2 separate regions of the Homo sapiens genome follow, and region 2 is linked to region 1. The links come from fine-mapping of genetic effects on gene expression. A gene starts in region 1. The other region holds a variant in brackets. All regions are shown on one strand. Distances are between the middles of the regions.

Region 1 (10,631 bases):
TCCCTCTGGCCAGTGCACCAAGCCCAGCAGCCCTCGGGACGGAGCAGGTGCCCTGGGTACGGCATGTTGTGTACCACTGCCTCTTGGGCTCACCCACCCACCAGCTCCTCAGCCACTGCCCAGAGCCTGGGACCTTGGCCCCCTGCCCAGGCCTGACAGGTGGATAGATGGGCAGATCCAGAGGGGGCCCCTGCCCCACCTCAGGGCCCCCTGCCAGGCAGCACACACCTTCAGCTCACAGTCTTCGTTCACAGCCAGGTTGCCGGGCTTCAGGTCCTGGGGGCAGAGGAAAGGTGGCCACTGTGCCCCACCCTCCCAAGCATGGGCACAGCCAAGAGCCTGGGTGGCACCTAAAGATGGGGCCACCGGACCTGGCCCCCTTGCTCTCTGCAGCCCTTCAAGGGCAGACCAAGGTACCTGGGCACCCAGGCAGGTTCCCACCAGGGGCTGTGCATAGGGCGTGGCTCAGCACCCAGACCCCATCACATCCTCACAGGTGGGACGTGGAGGCGGGGGGATTGCACTGGGGGAGGGCTGATGAGCGGCTTCTCCACCGGGACTCACTCTGTGGATGATGCCGGCAGCGTGGATATACTGCGGGGGGCAGAGGATTTGGCAGGCTTCAGCGCACCCTCTCAGAGCCACAGGGCCCTCCTCTGCCCAGCCCCGAGGCCCTGCCTGCCTCCCTGCAGCCTCCCCCGGGGCCCGTACCCTCAGCCCCTTCAGCATCTGGTACACGAGGAACTGGATCCGGTCCTCGCCTAGCTTCTCATGTTTCATGAGCTTGCCCAGGTCGGTGCCCATGAACGGCATCACCAGGTAACTGTGGGAGGGGCCGGAGCGCTGTCAGCGGACAGAGCCAGCCTCTGCATCCCAGAGACCCACCCAGCAGGCCCAGGCTCAGACCCGTCCCGGATCCAACAGGCACCCCCAGGAAGGTCACCCCTGCAGCACACATCCACACTGGCCTCGGTGTCCTCGCAGCCCCACCTTGCAGTGCCAGGCTCCATCCTCCCGCAACTGTTACTGCCAGCAGCGCTCACACCCCCCTCCCACCCTGAGGACTGTCAGGCAGGGAGGAGGCTGCCTTGGGGTTTTTGAACCCTCCGCTGAAGCGCCCTGCGTGCCAGGCTAGGGGCTGAGGCTCCATGGTAGAGGCAGCAGGACTCGAGTCTTCACAGGCAGGGGAGGGAGGCAGTCAGGTTTCAACTTCACAACTTTGTGCCAGAAATGAGGGAGGTGCCTGGGGGCGATGGGGGCGCGGCAAGGCATCTGGGTCAGAGGGGTCGGCTGGGCCGGTGGAGACAGACACAGGAGAATGGTATTTAGCACCTTCCCAGAGGCCACTGACTTGACCTCTGCAAGTCAGGCGGGAGGCGCCTGCTACCCTCTCCAGGCCTTCCTCGGCCTGGCCCTTCACTCTTGGCCGACAGGGTGTGAGTCCCAGGGTGGTCGGCTGCAGGGCAGGGGCAGGGTGGGTCCTCCCTACCGCTTCTCCCCCACCCGCTGGAAAAGGTCAGCAGCTCCAGTTACCGGCCACACACTTGGTGCCAGGGTCCCGAGCACGGGACCTTCCTGTTAACAAATGGTCAGGTCCAAGGTTCACACCTCCGGTGCTGGAGAGGGCCCAGGTGCCAGGCGTGGAGAGAGGCAGCAGCCCCAGCTCTGCCCAGCTGTGCCAGTGCCCGTGGGTCCCAGGACCATGTGGGGGAGGGCGTGGGGTGGACAGTGGTATGGGGAGGGGGTGGGCGGTGTGCATCCCCCACTCAGGCTGCAGGAAGAGAACCCCATTGCCAACCTAGAACCTGAAGCCAGTGCCCAGAGCTGCCCAACACCCCTCGTGCCCAGCGGCCAGCCCAGGTCGGCACTCACAAGTCCGTGAAGTCATCCAGGGTCTCATCAGGAGTGAATACGTCCAGCAGCCCGATCACCTGGGGGGGCCACATAGGGTTGAGAATGCAGCAGAGGACACGGGCTGGGGCACCCCCCAAGAGTGGCACAACCCTCTGGGCAGGAAACCCCCTCTGCAGCTGTCATTGTCATGCCCCACTGTCCAAAGGGCCTGGCTCTGCCCACTGGCAGTGTGGCCCAGCCCTGGCACACATACCCACTGGCAGTGTGGCCCAGCCCTGGCACACATACCCACAGAAAGGTTATTTTTGGACGGTGACAACCGGGATCTTCTGGGGGAGGGGCAACCCGGAGTCTGGGATGGCTCCGAACCATCCAAAGGGCTCCTGCCGCCTGACCCTTTCACCCCTCTTCACCCCAACCAAACAGATCCAGGCCCAGGGTGGGGACAGCGCTATGGAAAGAGGCCAGGCCTCTGCTGGTGAGGCCCAGGCGGACAGCACCGTGACCCACCAGACCTGGTCCCCTCAGCACCCCTGGTTGGGGAGATAGACAGTAGACAGGTCATGTGACAACTGCCGCCTCAGCATTTTGGGGTGACGGTCCCAGGGAGGCCTGGAGTTTTGCACAGCCAAGGGTGGAGGGGCAGGTAGACATGTGGGCTGCGGGACACCTGGCAGAGGGCACACACAGAGTGGCCGAGGCAGGAGGGAGCACACTTGGATAGTTTGAAGAATACAGGGAGGGAGGCCAGGTGGCGGAGGCCCAGGCCAGGGAGGGGCTGAGGAGAGGCCAGAGGGAGCCGGCAGGGCAGCACACACCAGGTGGAAGTTTGGCTTTGATCCCAAGAGACGGGGACGATTTAAATGGGGACGTGAGGCTAAATGCGTCCTCCTGGCCGTGGTGTAGGAACCGGCCAGAGTGAGGTAAGAATGGACACAAGCTGGAAGGACAGCTCCGCCGGAGCCACGTGGGCCAGAGCCATGGGCAAGAATGTGGAGGGAGGAGGAGAGGGAACAGAGGGGGTGTCCAGGGGGCAGCGGGGACTGTGGACATGAGAGCTGGAGGGTGCCCGGGAGAGTGCTTTAGCAGAAGACGGAGAGCAGGGTCCTGTGGGCTAGGGGCCACAGGACTTGGCCTGGCCTCTGTGGTATGGGGGCTGGCCTGGAGAGGGAGGCGGCCTGGCAGGACTGAGGCCTGTGGCAGAGCCTCCTCCCCCGCTGAGCAAGGCACGTGGCCTCACAGAGCTTCAGTCTCCCAGGAAGATGGGGTTCCAGGGAAAGAGCCTCAGCTGCAGGCCAGGAGCCCAGGGGGTGGGCCCACAGGCACAGCGGAGATCCCAGCACAGCGGGGCGGTGGCTAAAGAAAAGCCCCGGTGGAGCCCGGCGCGGTGGCTCACGCCTGTAACCCCAGCACTTTGGGAAGCCGAGGCGAGCAGATCACTTGAGGTCAGGGGTTCGAGACCAGTCTGCCCAACATAGTGAAACCTCATCTCAACTAAAAATACAAAAAATTAGCCAGGCGTGGTGGCGCGCGCCTGTAATCCCAGCTACTGAGGAGGCTGAAGCAGGAGAATCGCCTGAACCCAGGACGCGAAGGTTGCAGTGAGCTGAGATCGTGCCATTGCACTCCAGCCTGGGCAACAAGAGCGAAACTCGGTCTCAAAAGAAAAAAAAAGAAAAAAAGCCCCAGAGCGCTTGGCTGGATGGGGCAAGGCACGGGTGGGTGAGTGGGTGGGTGGGAGCAGGGGGCCGTGGGGAAGGCTGCAGTCCTGGGGCAAGGCCTTGGTGTGATGGGCGGGTGGTGGGGGGGTGCGGTGCCGGCGAAGTGGGGGCAGGGCTGGGTGTGACGGGGTGTCGAGGTGCGGGCAGGGCTGGTGTCCACTGCAAATGGATTTCACAGGGCCCAGGGTAGTGAGCTGGGGGTCAGGGTGGGCATGGGAAGCCTCAGAGAAAAAGACCCATCCAAGGGGCTGAGGGAGTAGCGGTGGCCAGGAACCGGGGGACGGGGCACTTTGCTGGTGGACGGGGCACTTTGCTGGTGGACGCAGGGACTCGTTCTCCCAAGGCACCGGTGGCTCAGATGACCCAGGAGGGTCCAGAGCATCTCACCCTGTAGGTAGGGTCCGGGTGCCCAGACCACCAGCCCTCAGGCTGGGCCCAGACCAGGGGGAGGGCAGGAGTGACGTGGGGGGCAGTGGACAAGTGGGACTGTATCCAGAAACCAGAGCACCCCTGGCAGAGAGATCGGGTTCTTAGCAGCCAGCCACCGCCATGGGAGAGGCCCAGGGCAGCTGTACGTGGCATCTCACTGGAAGGACTGGAAAGGATGGGCCCCCACAACGCACAGGAGGGTGTCTGTGAGGCGGCCACCACGCCCAGTGCTCCTCAAACAGCAGCTCCCTAAACCCTTCACCCCCAGGGGCTCCTGAGGGTTCAACACACTCCCTGCGTTCTGGCGCCCCCCTCCTCCCCCTCCACCACCGGGTCGGAAGACTCGGGAGATGGACAGCAGCAGAGTGGGCTCCACAGAGGGGCTGGAAAGGGGATGGGGAAGAGGGAAGGTGCCCCTTCCAGGAAAATCCTCCCGCCGGGAGCATGCTCTCACCGCGGGCTTCCTGGCTGGGGGCAAGGCTTGGCGTGAGACCTGGAGGATCCCCTGGGCCTGGCCAAGTCGTGTTCCCTGACCAGGGCCTGGCTGAGGCGCCGAGTCAAGGGGCTGAGTCCTTCCCGGGGCTGGCGGAGGATGGGGAACGGCCCTTGGGGGAGTCGTCTCCCAAGGAGAGACAGGCCTTGCTCTCCTTCTCCCCTGGGGACCCACGGCCCGACCCCCGCCCGGCCCCACAGCAGGCTGCCTGGAGGAGGGGTTGCCGGGTGGGGGAACCCAGCCCAGCTGAACCAAGCCGAGGCCGCGGCGCCTTCCCGGAGCGGGGCCGCGCGACTCACGTTCTCGTGGCGCATGTGCTTGAGCAGGCGCAGCTCGCGGTAGGCGCGCTTGGCGAACAGCTCGGACTGGAAAGGCCGATACAGCTTCTTGATGGCCACCTTAGCGCCGGTGCGGCCGTCCACGGCCGAGCTGCGGGGCGGACCGCTTAGCGGGAAGGCCGGGCACCCCGCGCAGGCCCCGCCCGCCCCGCCGGCCGCCCCGCCCGGCCCGCGCTCACCACACCGCGCCGTAGGCGCCCGAGCCCACGGGCTGCAGGTCCCGGTACACGGCGCGCACCTCCCAGGCCGTCTTGGTCACCTCCTGGCGGTAAAAGCCACTGCGGGCGGGCGGCGGAGAGCTCATGGCAGGCCCGGGAGCTGCCCACCCCGCAGAGCCTGCGGGCGGTGCCCCCACGACCGGGGACGGGGCTCCCTCGGCGCGCGCCTCGGGCCGGCTCCGCGCCGCTCGTCCGCTCGCCCGCCCGCCCGCCGGCCGCTGGGGCGCTCCCGCTCCCGGCCCTTCCCTCAGGGATGTCCCAGGTGCCGACCCCGGCCCGACCCCGACCCAGGCTGCGCACGGCCCCTCCCCCGCCCGGGGACCAACCGGCCCGCGGGCGGCGCGCACGTGACGCCCTCGCCCGCCCTCCGGCCCCTCCGGAAACCCGAGGCGGCCGCCGCCGGGGGAGGGCCGGAGCCTGGGGAGGGCCGGAGCCTGGGGGGAAGCGCAGGGGGAGGGGAGCGCCGCCCCGCAGCTTCGTCCCCATAAAGGGCCGGACGCGGCGCGGAGATACCTCTGCCAGCCTCTCCCCTTTGGCTGAACTTCCCCGCCCTGGGGGGGTCTCAGCAGGAGCCCCCCCCCCCCCCCCCCGCCCGCTCCAGTCCTAACTCCCCACGGCTCCAGGGCGCAGGGCCCATCCTTGACAGCCTGAGCGCTGACTTCTATGGCAGCCGCAAGTCGGGCTGAGCCCTGTGTTCCCGGGGTCAACTTCGCAGGCCACCCCCAAGGATGCCCTACCACTGAGCCTGATCCATCCGTCCCCCAACAAGGGGTCCATCTGCACCTGTCCTGCCTGTATCCCTCTTTCTACACGGAGGGGTCTGTCCCCCAAACTCCTCAGGCTGCATCCCCAACCCCACTCCTGTGGCCACTGACCCCGGGCCTCTCAGTCCCATAGGTCCCCGTGGGCCCTTTTGGACCCCCAGCTCCTCCCCCTGCTCCCCCCATCTGTGGGGTGCCTGCTCCAAGCATTGCAAGTACTGGTGTCTCTGCCCATCCCACCCCTGCCTGTCCTGTCCTGCAAAACCCAGGCTGAGAGTGGCTGCACTCTCTCCAGCAGGGATGGGGACCTGCTGGGGCCCTCCGCCTGACCCCTCTGTGTGGGCATTGTCCTCCCATAGGTCTGGCCCCATCCTGGACCAGATGCTCCTGAGGGCAAAGCCCCACCCTGACACCCCTTCACCAGCCCAGGAACCTGGATCTCAGAAGGGATGTTGGGGCACCCCAGGAGCCCACTGGGCTGGTGGGTAACAGGATCCCTAGGGCCTTCTGCCCCGCCCTCCTGCCATGAATCAGCAGCTCAGCCGCTCAAGGGTGGTAGTAGCTTTACACCTGGGCTTGGGCCGTGCTCCACGGCATTCACCAGCTCGTGACCAGTGAGCGGGGCAGCCCAGGGCCACCCAAACCACAGCTGCCTGTGGCCCATACCCTTTGTGCCCTGGGCTGCCTGTGGCACTCCATCCACCTCTTCCAGGAAGCCCAGCTTCCACGCTGTCCCCCTTACTCCCCGTGGTGGGGCTCAGGGGTCCAGCAGGCCCTGCACGGACCAGGCTTCTGAGGTGGGGCTGTGTCACCATTCTCCTCCCACCCCCAACCGCCAACACTGGACTTCCCCCGGGATTGACCACTACACTGACCAGGCCCCAGGAGGCCCCCAACTCCCAGACGGTTTCCACCCCTACCCAAGACCCAAGCAAGGGCACAGACTGTCCCTGGTCCTTAGAGACACTGCCTGACCCCAAATGGCCTGGACCCTCCCCCACACATAAGCTGCAGCGCGTAGTGGGAACGGGACCAGCGTGCACATTCCCTGGGTTAAAGTGGCCTCTTTTTCCTTCACCAGGAGGGAAAGGAAAGCTATTTTCCCTACCCTGCCCAGCCCCCACCCAGGGATGGGCAGACCCTTGCTCCTTGAGACACCCAACTTCTCCCCAGCCAGCTTCCCTGAACACTGAGGGGTAGGCGGGGGTGGTGTCTGGATCTTGGCCCAAAGCCAAGCCTGCCCAGTACATCCCCACAGGGCAGCTGGGGTCACCATCTGGGTGGCTGTCACACCCTGTGCCCTCAAAGTCTGCCCATCAGCCATGTCTTCCCCTGGTCCCCCTGGGCTCTCAGACCCTCCAGGGAGCAGGGAGGGTGCCAGAAGATGGCCGCTGGTCTGACTGGGGGCCTGAGGGATCTGGCCAGCTGGAGGTGAGTGATGCAGGATGACCCAGACACTCCCCCCACGCCCAGCAGCAGGGATGGTGGGGGCACCCGGGCCTGGAGTAGCCTTTGGATACAAGCCAAGTGAGAGAGAACCCCCTTTATTGTGCACCCCTGGTGCAGGCACTTGACACCCAGGCTTCCCTGGGCCCCTCGAGGCAAGAGGTCACCCCCTTTCCAGGGCAGAGCCACACCCCCAACTCAGCTCTGGGCAGGGTCCCGTCTCCGAGGTTACTGGATCAGCTCCATCCTGGGACAAGGAAAGAGGACTGACCCACAGACCAGAGCACCTCAGATCTCCGGCTGCAGGGCCACAACGGTGGGCAGAGGTAGAGAGCGGGCCAGGGTGCAGGGCAGAAGTGTCCGAGTCCAAGTCCACATCCAGGTGTGCTGCCTGCCCTAGCGTCCTCAAGGCCAAACCACCCACCCACCCACCCCCAGCCTCAGGAAGCTGCTGTGGGTCCCACATCCAAGGAGAAAGCCCCTGCCCATGCTCATGTGGTTGCCCTTTGGCCCACTGGAGCCGCCAGTCTGAAACACCCCTCAAGGCATCAGGAACCGAGGAGAGGGAAGGCAACAGCACACCCACCCCGGCTCCAGCTTCTTGCCAGATATGGCTGCTGGCCTTGGGCGCCCACAGATTCACACGCACCACATCACATGTGCCCTGACATATGAACACGGGGAGTGCACGCTCATCCACACGTGCCCACACACACCCACGGGTGAACACAAGACTCCAGGCAGCTTTTCTCATTTGACACCTGGTGGTTGTCCCTGCCCAGCCTGGTGGCACACTGGCTCTGCCTCTCCTCTTAGACCTGTGGGTCTCAGCAGTGACCAAGACAGCCCCCTACCTCCAGGCTGAGCAGCTCTAACCACTGAGACCTCTCCCTTTGAGTCTCCCGGGGTCCCGGCCCCAGCGCGTCCTCCAGAAAGCCCTGGGACAGAAGAGAGCCCAAGGCTGACACTCCCTTGGGTCGGCCTGGGACAGACAGGGGAACTCCGCAGGGGAACCCCTTTGGCATCTAGGACCCCACAGTCAGGTCCCAGTGGAGAGTGCAGTAGCCAGAAGAGGACAGGAGGACCAAGGTAGGCCCAGGGACACTTGTGCCCAGACTCCTACACATGGCAAGCACATGTACACACATGTTTGTGCATGCATACATGCGTGTAGATTCTCCTGAAGGCGAGGGGTCCTAGGCCAGAAGTCTGTGACCATAGGAGTGTGGGAGGTGCCTCTCGAGGAAACCAGGCCAGCTGTGGAAGGGTGCAGGCCCAAGCCCCTCCACAGGCTCTCAGGGGCTGCTGGGCAGCACCTCACTGCTCAATCTCCAGGCTGCCAGGTGGCTTCGGTGGCTCTGGGGGCTTGAAGCTGAGGACTTCCTGGTAAGTGAGCTCTAGGAGGTGAAGGGAAAGGGTGAGCTTGTGCCTCCCACAGCCCGGCCCCTCACCTGCTTGTCTGGCACCTGCCACCCAGCCCAGGCCCACCACCCTGTGACAGCAGCCTCAGCACAGTCTGGGAGCCAGAACCTGCCCTGTGTCACTCCTCCGCCCCGCTCCCAGCCTGTGCTGGACACCTGAACGCCCTTCCACACCTGACCAGTCTGGAGAGGAACTGGGGCATTTCCTGCCTCTGGGGAAATGGAGCCCGCAGGCCCCTGGACCCACCCCCAGCCACTGCCATGCTCACCCTTCCACTCCTCCAGCGTGCGCTCCTTGGCCTCAACGCTCTCATCATATGGCTCGGCCTCTGGCTCATCCTCGGGGTCGTGGTACTGGCTGAAGTAGGCGTGGGCCAGTGCCTCAGCTGCACTGACCCTCTGGTCACTGTCCAGCACCAGCATCCTTCCAAGGAGGTCTATGGCTGCAGGGAAGCCAGTGGTGGGGAGGGGGGTCAGCTGTACATCCAGGGCCAGATATGGAGCCCAGTCTAGCCCAGGGCAGTCCTCACCCAGGGGGTTGGCTCCACGGAAGATGCTGCTCAGGTCCTTCTGGGGCATGGGGGGCAGGGACTGGATATATGTCCGGGCCTGGGGGCACACAAGAACACCTGGGGAGGCTGCTCACTCTCTGCCTCCCTGGCCCCAAACTGGGGCTTCTCTTGGCAAGCCCCCAGACTCATTCACTCCAACAGGCCAGGACAAGGGCACAGGCAGACCAGTGACCCCCTCCATATAGGATCTGGTGGTTCTAGCTCCTCAGTTGGCCCCTAATGCCTGCAGGAGCTGGGTCCAAGTACACTCCCTCCACCCAGCCCACCCCCACTGCCCTGGCCAGGCACTGCTTGCTGGGGTCCCCCAGCCCACCCCCACTGCCCTGGCCAGGCACTGCTTGCTGGGCCCCCAGCCCACCCCCACTGCCCTGGCCAGGCACTGCTTGCTGGGGTCATGGCTTTGCACTCACTGTCCCTGGTGTCAGGAATGTCTTCCCCCTTCTCCTGTTTCCCCTGCAGGGATTGGGCACCTGCCCTAGGCTCTATCCCACCACATCCCATGTTCCCCATATGGTCCCCGCATTTCCACACCACCCTCTCCCCCAGAGAGCCTGGGGGCTCAGCCAGGAGAGGGAGCTGCTGGCTGGCGGGCACCAACTCACGTGTTCTGAGGAGATTTTTGCCAGAACCTCAGGGCTGGGTGTGCCCACCACTTCCATGATGCGCTTCAGCTGGTCAATGTCTGTGTCACTCAGGAAACACCCACGGGCCAGCCACAGACCCCTCCTGGGCCCCCAGACCCAAAACTTTGGGGCGCTGCCCAGAGCCCGCTCTCCTATAGGTGAGGATGGCCAGCCCAAAGTAGCATAGCATGGGGGGCAGAGGAGGCAAGACCCGCCAGAAGGGGCCAGCGCTGGTCCCTACCCTACAGGAGGGGCCCTGTTTGACCCTGCTCCCCAACCTGGGCCAAGGATACAGTCGCTTCCCGGGAAGAGGGCCTTGCCCTGGAGCAGCTCAGCCATGATGCAGCCCACGGACCAGATATCCACTGTGCGAGGGCGAGGGGACCTCCATCAGTGTGCCCACCCCACGTCCCTCCTCCAGGAGACCCACAGTCACATCCAGACCCCAAGATGGGCAGACCCCCTCCTCTGCCATACCCAACCCCCCTAGGCAGGGGGAGGTCCATAGCTGCACAGCCAGAGGAGGCCAGCACCCATCATGCTCTAGCGGCCTCTGAAGGGCTACTTTTGAATGTGGGTCCCACATTCTTGGGGACCTTGCCTGCCCCCTAAGACCTGGCATGCAGAGCCAGTCGAGGGCCAGACGAGGCCCTTGGCCTTCGTCCCCCCAAGGCCTTCCCCCTGCACCTGTTTGGTTGTAATGCATCCAGTTGAGCATGATCTCAGGTGCCCGGTACCAGCGCGTGGCCACATAG
Region 2 (10,631 bases), 24 kb before region 1:
CCTCAGGTCAGGAGTCAAGAGACCAGCCTGAGCAACATGGTGAAACCCCGTCTCTACTAAAAATACAAAAATTAGCCAGCCGTAGTGACATGCACCTGTAATCCCAGCTACTCGGGAGGCTGAGGCAGGAGAATTGCTTGAACCCGGGAGGCAGAGTTTGCAGTGAGCCGAGACCGTGCCATTACACTCCAGAATGGGCAACAGAGCGAGACTCTGTCTCAAAAAAAAAAAAGAAAAAGAAAAAGAAAAAGAAAAGAAAAAAATGAGCTGAGTGTGGTGGCACGTGCCTGTAGTCCCAGCTACATGGAGGCTAAGGTGGGAGGATTGAGATTCAGCCCAGGAGGTCGAGGCTACTGTGAGCTGTGATGGTGCCACTGCACTCCAGCCTGGGCAAGAGAGAGACCCTGTCTCAAAAAAAAAAAAGAGAGTCAGGGTTGGTTCCACACAATAAGGCTATCCCCACAACAGACAAGATGAGCTGTGAGCACGGTGTTGAGAACAGGCGCCCTCAGCGCCGGCAGCAGCTGGAGCTTGCTGGTGAGCACTTTTCTGGGGCAGTCACTGGCTGTGCTTCTAGTCCATTCTGAAGTCTAAGAATGGCCACCATAAAAGAACATTTAAGACAAAGGAAGGGGATGAGCACTTAAATGAAAAAGCTGCAGAGCAAGACTTCATTTTTCTGAATATATCCATTCACTTCTCCAGTGCCCAGCAAGAGGGCTGGCTAAACTGCAGCTGGTGCCAGAACCAGTAAGGCCCGGCCCCATCCCGGATGACACCGCATCCAGTGAGAAGAGCAGCGCAGGCCCCAGTCTCGGGACGCTCTCGGCAGGCAGATGCTCCTCCCGAGCGGTGGGAAGGCTCGGAAGGCGCCTGGCACTTCAGGACGGAAATGGAAATGCGGGGAGGAACATTTTCTATCGCTTTGCTGACAGCAATAAACATGTTATTTCTCTGCAGTTTTTTAAAAGGACATTAATAAATTAACACTTTTTAGAACCGAAATGGGATGATGCTGGCTGTCATCACTGGTGGCCCTGGGAGCTGGCCTTCCCTGCCACTCCCCACTCCCTGCACTGGGGCTTGTTCTGCCCCATAAAGGGCTGGGCACTGCGTGGTGGAGGGCAGGCCAGCCCCACACCACTGTGGCGGGGAGTGAGCAGTTCTCACCTGGCAGAGCGAAAACGTGGCAGACACGACCCCAATCAAGACGTTCAGCACGTCTTTCACCAGCTCGCACTCCTTCACCAGCACGGGCTGCGGGGCCTGTAGGACGCCCCCAGCAAGCAGCTGGAGCTCCCCTTGGTGGAGCCTGCAGAACTTGTCGAAAGCGTCCCTTCCCGCCTCCGTCAGGTAAGGCTCCTCTCTGTGGCCAGGGGGGCTGCGAGGGGTGCAGAAGAGAGGCCATGAGCAGACGTGGTGACCTGCACCTCAGCACCAGGGTGCTTTCTCTCGGGAATGGGCATGAACAGAAGAATGGAAGTGATTCAAAACAATAAACTCTAAGAAACATAGCCAGGTATGAATGTCAGCTCACCACCCAGCCTTTTGTGGATGCTGCTGCTGTGAATACCAGCACGATCGATTCTATCAGGACAACTCATGTGGAAAGTGTTCCAGGGCACCTTCCTGGGGTCCTGGGCATGGCCGGGGGTATCCGACTGGCCCAGCCCTGGAAGAGCACCCCAGGCCACGCCAGTGGCCCTCAAGATGGTGATTCACTCATAAAGTATTCTTCTGTTAGAAACAAAACAAGATTTGTACACCCATGTACACAACAGCATCTACACCCTGTCCATGGCAGCATCCACACCCAGGTCCATGGCAGCATCCACATCCCTGTTCATGGCAGCATCATCCACACCCCTGTCCACAGCAGCATCCACATCCAGGTCCACTGCAGCATCATCCACACCCCCTGTCCATGGCAGCATCATCCATACCCCATCCATGGCAGCATCCACACCCCCTGTCCACAGCATCATCATCCACACCCCTATCCACAGCAGCATCACCCACACCCATCCACGGCAGCATCATCCACACGCCCGTCCACAGCAGCATCTACACCCAGGTCCACAGCAGCATCATCCACACCCTCTGTCCACGGAAGCATCACCCACACCCCTGTCCATGGCAGCATCACCCACACCCACCCATGGCAGCATCATCCACACCCCTGTCCACAGCAGCATCCACACCCCTGTCCACAGCAGCATCCACACCCAGGTCCACGGCAGCATCATCCACACCCCTGTCCACAGCAGCATCCACACCCAAGTCCACGGCAGCATCATCCACATCCAGGTCCACAGCAGCATCGCCCACACCCCCGTCCACAGCAGCAGCATCCACACCCCTGTCCACAGCAGCATCCACACCCAGTTCCACAGCAGCATCATCCACACCCAGGTCCACGGCAGCATCGCCCACACCCCCGTCCACGGCAGCATCATCCACACCCCTATCCACAGCAGCATCATCCACACCCCCTGTGCACGGCAGCATCACCCACACCCCCGTCCACAGCAGCATCTACACCCAGGTCCACAGCAGCATCATCCACACCCCCTGTCCACGGCAGCATCACCCACACCCACCCATGGTACCAGCACCCACACCCCCGTCCACAGCAGCATCCACATCCAGGTCCACAGCAGCATCATCCACACCCCCTGTCCACGACAGCATCACCCACACCCCTGTCCCTGGCAGCATCACCCACACACACCCATGGCAGCATCATCCACACCCCTGTCCACAGCAGCATCCACACCCAGGTCCACGGCAGCATCGCCCACACTCCCGTCCATGGCAGCATCCACACCCAGGTCCACCGCAGCATCATCCACACCCCTATCCACGGCAGCATCCACCCCCTGTCCACGGCAGCATCAGCCACACCCCTGTCCACAGCAGTATCCACACCCCTGTCCATGGGAACATCATCCACAACCCTATCCACTGCAGCATCATCCACACCCGTGTCCATGGCAGCATCCACACCCCAGTCCATGGCAGCATCTACACCCCTATTCACGGCAGCATCATCCACATCCCTGTCCACGGCAGCATCATCCACACTCCTGTCCATGGCAGCATCCACATCCCTGTCCACGGCAACATCCACATGCCTATCCACATGCCTGTCCACGGCAACATCCACATGCCTGTCCACAGCAGCATCCACACCCCCGTCCACGGCAACAACATCCACAACAGCCAGGGGGAGAGGAGCCTGAGCCCCCAACAGAGGAGGATAAACACAGACCGTCCGTGCAGACCCCTGCCCATCATTCAGCCTTAAAAAGGAAGGCAGCTCAGACACGTGCTCCAGAAGGCACGGCACTCAAGGACGCCGTGTGGAGTGCAATGAGCCATCACAAAACACTGTCTCCACAGGGACGGCGCTCGAGGACGCCAAGTGGAGTAAAATGAGCCATCACAAAACACTGTGCAACTCCACTTACATGAGGTCCCTACAGTGGCCAAAATCCTAGAGACAGAAAGTGGAGGCCAGGTGCGGTGGCTCATGCCTATAATCCCAACACTTTGGGAGGCCAAGAAAGGCAGATCACGAGGTCAGGAGTTCAAGACCAGCCTGGCCAACATGGTGAAACCCTGACTCTACTAAAAACACAAAAATTAGCTGGGCGTGGTGGCGGGCATCTGTAATCCCAGCTGCTCAGGAGGCTAAGGCAGGAGAATGGCTTGAACCCGGGAGGTGGAGGTTGCAGTGAGCCAAGATCGTGCCACTGCACTCCAGCTTGAGCAACAGAGCAAGACTCCATCTCGGAAAAAAAAAAAAAAAAAGTGGAGTGAATGGGGAGCTGTTTAATGGGTTCAGAGTTTCCTGCAGACTTGCTGTGCAGCAGTGAAAATACACACAGCATTACAAAGCTGTACAACTGGTTAAGACGGTAAAAACATTATATAAATTTTACTGCCCCACCTCAGAAAAACCGTAAGAGATGGATACAGAAAAAAAAATTCACAATTTTTTTTTTTGAGACGGAGTCTCGCTCTGTCACCCAGGCTGGAGTGCAGTGGCACGATCTTGGCCCATTGCAACCTCTGCCTGCTGGGTTCACACCATTCTCCTGCCTCAGCCTCCCGAGTAGCTGGGACTACAGGCACGGGCCACCATGCCTGGCTAATTTTTTGTATTTTTAGCAGAGATGGGGTTTCACCGTGTTAGCCAGGATGGTCTCGATCTCTTGACCTCGTGATCCGCCCACCTCAGCCTCCCAAAGTGCTGGGATTACAGGCGTGAGCCACTGCACCTGGCTAAGTTCACAAATTTTTAAGACAGTAACAGGTAAGGTGGGCTGGTACAGGCAGCCCTGGGCACATGCAACTCTGAGGAAATTTGCCTTCTGCTGGTGCTGAGGCTGTGAAACCACATGTACTGGCACTACACACACTCACACCCCCGTCCTCCCTGCGAAAACAATCAGCTCCAAGAAACACACTTTTACTGGCCACCTCTGCTATGAAGAGGGTGGGCTGGAGGGGGCAGGAGGAAGGAGACCAGCCCTGAGATGTCCAGTCAGCAGGTGGGGCCGCTCTGGACCCCAGACGCCTGCCCAGGCTCCCTCAGGATGAGATGAGCATGAGAAAGACACAGCCTCTCAGAGCCTCTGTCTGCCCCCTGCATTTCTTCCTGCAGATGGCCTCGGCAGGGGTGCAGGCTGTGGGCACAACCCTGTTTCCCCCTGCAGCCACTTCCACCCCATCTCCTCCAGGACTGGCCCCCAGCACTGCCATGGCTGCACACCCCTCTTGGTGACTCAGAACTGAGGGAAAAAAAGCCCACAGCGGAAACACAAAGACACAGCGCAGGATCCTGCAGGCTCTGGAGTGAACACCCCCCGCCCCAACAGGTCCCCAGAGAGAACACAACCCAAAATGTAGCAAAATGCTTCCCCCAGATGGGTGGCACATGCAGAGAAAGAGACCATTCCAGGGTCTGAAAGGCCTCCCTCCGCCTTAACCCAGCCCTTGCAGCTCAGCAGCAGGGAGGGCCGTGAGCAGTCGGACAATGGTGGTTCTCAGGGTGGGCAACAGCAGGGG[C/A]GAGTGGCCCCCCGTGGGGTCTTGGGACCTGTGGGAAAGCAGGGTTGATGTCTTGGAGAGTGGAGAAGGCTCAATTTCTGGCTAGGCGGCAGTTTCTTTAGCCACCTGCTGGTCAGAGCTCATCACAGCAGGAAACTAGCAGGTGGCTGGGATTTAAAATGAAACAAGACCAAACGATTTGCCAAAGGAACTTGAACCACAGCATCAGGCTGACCCGACTGCAGTGTCAGGGGCCGTGGGATCAGGGAGTAGAGGGGCCCAGGAGACGTAAACTCAGGTCCAGCCACTGTGTGGCCCTGTGCAGGTCAGCCACTGGACACTGAGATGACCACAGCACTTTCACTCTGCAGGGCCCTGGGCAGAGAAAGTCCCTACAGGAGCTGCCCAGGCTGTGCTCAGCACACTGCCAGGCACACAGCAGCACCTCCCTATAGGAACCACCGCCAGGCCCCACCGTGCCGGAGCTCCGCAGCCTAGGAACCACCGCCGGGCCCCACCGTGCGGGAGCTCCGCAGTCTCCAGCGTATTCAGAACAGGGTGATGAGGAGAGTGAGTGACCATGTCTCCTCATCAGCAACCCGAAAAAATGAACCTAGAAAAGGGGGAGTTAATAAATGAAATACAGCCAGCACGGTGGCTCATGCCTGTAATCCCAGCACTTTGGGAGGCCGAGGCGGGTGGATCACCTGACGGTGGGAGTTCAAGACCAGCCTGACCAACATGGAGAAACACCATCTCTACTAAAAACACAAAATTAGCCAGGCGTGGTGTCCCATGCCTGTAATCCCACTGTAATCCCAGCTACTTGGGAAGCTGAGGCAGGAGAATCGCTTGAACCCAGGAGGCAGAGGTTGCAGTGAGCCAAGATTGCGCCATTGCACTCCAGCCTGGGCAACAAGGACAAAGAAAGAAAAAGAAAAGAGAGAGAGAGAGAGAGAGACAGACAGACAGACTTATGAGGGAGAGTTTGGGGGACCTAGTTTGTTTAGGATGAAAGGAGTTGCCTAATTATGGTGAGCTGAAGAATGTTCCAGGTGAAGGGAACCTGGTGTTGGAAGGTTCTGAGTTTTTACAAAAATTAGCTGGGCATGGTGGCAGGTGCCTGTAATCCCAGCTACTCAGGAGGCTGAGACAGGGAGAATTACTTGAACCCGGGAGGCGGAGGTTGCAGTGAGCTGGAGATGGTGCCACTGCACTCCAGCCTGGGCAACAGAACAAGACTCCGCCTCAATAAATAAATAAATACAAAAAAAAAACAGAAAAAAATACTATTAGCAGACATGTACAGAATAAAGCAATAACTTGTAGGGCCAGTTTTTTTTTTTGTTTTTTTTTTTGAGACGGAGTCTCGCTCTGTCACCCAGGCTGGAGTGCAGTGGCGCAATATCCGCTCACTGCAAACTCCGCCTCCCGGGTTCACGCCATTCTCCTGCCTCAGCCTCCCCAGTAGCTGGGACCACAGGCACCCGCCACCACGCCTGGCTAATTTTTTGTATTTTTAGTAGAGACGGGGTTTCACTGTGTTAGCCAGGATGGTCTCGATCTCCTGACCTCGTGATCCACCCGCCTCAGCCTCCCAAAGGCCAGTTTTTAAACGTGTGAGGGATTGGCAGAGAGCAGGACCATGAGATTTGCTTTGACTGATGCACCAGCAGGAAGTGACACAGCAGGAAGGCCCTGGCAGTCAGGATAAAGCCACCACCACCGTGCTGGGAAGCAGGGAGACAGCCAACCCTGAGGGAATCTTCATGATGTCAGGAAAGCTCGCCCACCCGGGGGCACATGCTCCTGTCCAGGCTGCCAGAGCCCAGCCACTGCATCCCAGAGCACTCAGCTCCCAGCCAGCCCTGACCCTTTCACCCAACACTCCCCAAACCGATACCCACAGGATCACCAGTGGACTGGATGTGAACGGGGCATTCCATGGCCAAACATTTGGGGAAGTGCGTGTTTTTTTGTTTGTTTGTTTTTTGTTTTTGAGACAATCTCACTCTGTCACCCAGGCTGGAGTGCAGTGGTGCAATCTCGGCTCACTGCAAACTCCACCTCCCAGGTTCAAGTGATTCTTGTGCCTCAACCTCCTGAGTAGCTGGGATTATAAGCGAGCACCACCACGCCCAGCTAATTTTTGTATTTTTAGTAGAGACGGGGTTTCACCATGTTGCCCAGGCCAGTCTCAAAATCCTGACTTCAAGTGATCTGCCCGCCTCAGCCTCCCAAAGTGCTGGGATTACAGATGTGAGCCACCGCGCCCAGGCGAAATGCATATTCTCTGCCTGGGTTCTGGGAGTTATCAAAAGATACCACCACATTAAAGACTCTGAGAGGTGCTGAGTGCAGAGGCCTCTGGACCCAGGTGAGCCAGGGAGTGAGTGGCTACCGCATCCAGAGAGCAAGCTGCTGGTACCAGTCAGGAAAAAGCTGCTGCAGCTGGAGCTTCTCATCACCCAGACTGCCCCTCCCAACTCCTCCAGACACGGACGGAAAAGGTTCCGTGTTCATCAGCACCCCAATTCCTCTAGACATGAATGGAAAAGGCTCCTTCATCAGCACCCCATGCCCAGTGAGCATTTCTTCCTGGCACTAATCACACAGCCTGCCAGGCAGCTCTCTTGCTCTTAAGGACATAACTTAGCTGCCCCAACTGCTCTGCCTGGCAGGTGTGATCTGGTTACTGGCACGGGGAGGGGAGCTCTGCCCGACAGGTGTGATCTGGTTACTGGCACAGGGAGGGGAGTTCTGCCCGACAGGTGTGATCTGGTTACTGGATGGGGAGGTGAGGCCTCCTTAAAGGCTGTTAGTGCTTTCCCCTCTGCATCTCTCTTAACTCCCAGGACTCAGTCAATTTTGGACACTAGCTTAGGTTACTAACCCATCACAACTGCCTGGACCCCTGAGTACACAACGCCCCCCACACACCCCATCCAAGGCCACGCTCATGCAGGGGTAGGGGCACTGCATGCCAAGGCAAAGAAGGGCACACACCAGCCAACTCGCTCCCAGCACCTCCGCTTGCTGGCCTCATAGGTAAGTGCGGCTTCCCACAGGTCCACGTCTGGGGTCACGCTGGGCTCAGACTGGGAATCAGGAGTCAAGTTGGACGCTGACTGGAATCCTTCGTCTTCCCACTGATCCACACTCGGTGGGACCTGGAGACACAGGGAAGGGCAAACCGCCACTTATTGCTGTGTCCACGTTTCATCCAAGGGCGATGAGAATTTCAGGAACTTTATGCAAAGACCTAACAAAATGTTTCTTCTGTTTTTCTCAAGCGCATGTGTACCATACAATGTTTCCCACCAATGAGCCATTTAAGGAATTAAACAAAATAAGTCGTCAAGGCTGCCAATTTCCAATTCCATGTAACACATAAGCCTCAGTGGAACTTAGAGTGAAACTTTTTGAGATGCCTCAGACCTGGAAATTCCAATGTGGGGAACCCAGAATTAAAAAAATCACACTCAACATTAAAACACTACTGTACACCGGGGCCAGGCGCAGTGGCTCACGCCTGTAATCCCAGCACTATGGGAGGCTGAGGCAGGTGGATCACCTGAGGTCAGGAGTTTGAGACCAGCCTGGCCAGCATGTGAAACCCCGTCTCTACTAAAAATATAAAAATCGGCCAGGCGTGGTGGTGGGCACCTGTGGTCCCAGCTACTCGGGAGGCTGAGGCAGAAGAATTGCTTGAACCCGGGAAGCGGAGGTTGCAGTGAGCCGAGATTGCGCCACCACACTCCAGTCTGGGCGACAGAGCAAGACTGTGGGCAGCAAGCCACCCAGGTGCCGAGGCAAGAGACCGAGGGCACGAGCTGTTCTAGTACAATAAAATATATAGAACAAGAATAGTTACACTATAGATCATAAATATGATTATATATGAACGTTATTAATCATTAGTTTGTAGCAATTGCTCTTTATTCCAAGATTATAATAATCTTCGCTCTACAATTGTAACTTACGAGAAACCAGGCCATACAGAGACAGGAGCTGAAGGGGCAAGGTGAGAAGTGACCAGAAGACAAGAGTGTGAGCCTTCTGTCATGCCCAGACAGGGCCACTAGAGGGCTCCTTAGTCTAGTGGTAATGGCAGCACCTGGGAAGACGCCCATTACCTAGCGGACCTTGGTCTAGCGGTAGCGTCAGTGCCTAGGAAAAGCACCCACTACTTAGCAGACCAGGAAAGGGAGTCTCCCTTTCCCTGGGGGAGTTAGAGAAGACTCTGCTCCACCACCTCTTGTGGAGGGCCTGACATGACTCAGGCCCACCCGCAGTTATCCAGAGGCCTAAACGTCTCCCTGTGATGCTGTGCTTCAGCAGTCACACTCCTAGTCCACTTTCATGTTCCATCCTGTACACCTGGCTCTGCCTTCTAGATAGCAGTAGCAAATTAGTGAAAGTACTAAAAGTCTCTGAAATGCAGAAATAATGGTGTAAGCTGTCTCCTCTCTCTCTGCTTCGGCTGCCAAACAGGGAAGGGCCCCCTGTCCAGTTGACACGTGACCCACGTGACCTTACCTATCATTGGAGATGACTCACACTCCTTACCCTGCCCCTTTTGCCTTGTATCCAATAAATAACAGCGCAGCCTGGCATTTGGGGCCACTACTGGTCTCCACGTGTTGGTGGTAGTGATCCCCCGGGCCCAGCTGTTTTTTCTTCTATCTCTGTCTTGTGTCTTTATTTCTACCATCTCTGGTCTCCGCATATGGAGAGAAAAACCCACAGACCCTGTAGGGCTGGTCCCTACACAAGACTCCATCTCAAAAAAAAAAAAAAAAAAAAAAAAAAGAACAATCAGGCCGGGCTCACGCCTGTAATCCCAGCACTTTGGGAGGCCGAGGCGGGCAGATCACGAGGTGAGGAGATAGAGACCATCCTGGCTAACACGGTGAAACCCCGTCTCTACTAAATATACAAAAAATTCGCAGGGCGTGGTGGCAGGCACCTGTAGTCCCAGCTACTCAGGAGGCTGAGGCGGGAGAATGGCGTGAACCTGGGAGGCAGAGCTTGCAGTGAGCCAAGATTGTGCCACCGCACTCGAGCCTGGGCGACAGAGCGAGACTGTGTCAAAAAAAAAAATCAAATAAAATAAAAAAATAAAAATACAAACATATAAAATACAAAAATTAGCTGTGTGTGGTGACGCACACCTGTAGTCCCAGATACTTAGGAGGCTGAGGCAGGAGAATCGCTTGAACCCAGGAGATGGAGGTTGCAGTGAGCCGAGACCACACCACTGCACTCCAGCCTGGGCGACAGAGCAAGACTTGTCTCAAAAACAAAAAACAAAACTGCTGTACACCAAGACATTTGCTGTAGCATTATGTATGTTTCTAAATCATCTAGCTATCGCATAAGAATAGAACGACTAGTAACAATGTATCCTTTTGGCAACACTGATAAAGCAATAAAATACAAAACTCAAATGAGGAGCTACAGCGTACCATGGTAAAGCCTCAGGCGACAGACAGCAAAAACATATCCAATTGCACGAATTACAGAACATGAACACTTTTGCCACACGTGGCTACTGAGCACTTGAAATGTGGCTTGTG

What was found.
Region 2: its variant is fine-mapped to the expression of MAPK12 in whole blood (TOPMed, PIP above 0.99).

Annotation. Positions count from the first base shown.
Region 1 is chr22:50,256,371-50,267,001 of GRCh38, forward strand. MAPK12 (mitogen-activated protein kinase 12) reads right to left here and starts at 5,313. Exons shown (of 12, transcript NM_002969.6): 1 at 5,015-5,313; 2 at 4,797-4,926; 3 at 1,873-1,931; 4 at 712-823; 5 at 565-594; 6 at 229-276. The coding sequence starts at 5,139. MAPK11 (mitogen-activated protein kinase 11) reads right to left here. Exons shown (of 12, transcript NM_002751.7): 7 at 10,564-10,631; 8 at 10,170-10,241; 9 at 9,856-9,935; 10 at 9,212-9,290; 11 at 8,951-9,124; 12 at 7,343-8,657. The coding sequence ends at 8,578. RefSeq lists enhancers at 2,332-2,904, 3,629-4,129, 5,699-6,430 and silencers at 4,552-4,731, 4,882-5,251, 5,282-5,591, 5,602-5,651.
Region 2 is chr22:50,232,146-50,242,776 of GRCh38, forward strand. It overlaps TUBGCP6 (tubulin gamma complex component 6), which reads right to left. Exons shown (of 25, transcript NM_020461.4): 2 at 8,059-8,222; 3 at 1,171-1,381. Among named protein-coding and RNA genes, the nearest start is that of TUBGCP6, 7.6 kb to the right of the region's middle. RefSeq lists enhancers at 6,361-6,862, 6,863-7,362, 9,260-9,559. The variant C/A (reference allele first, on the strand shown) is at 5,074.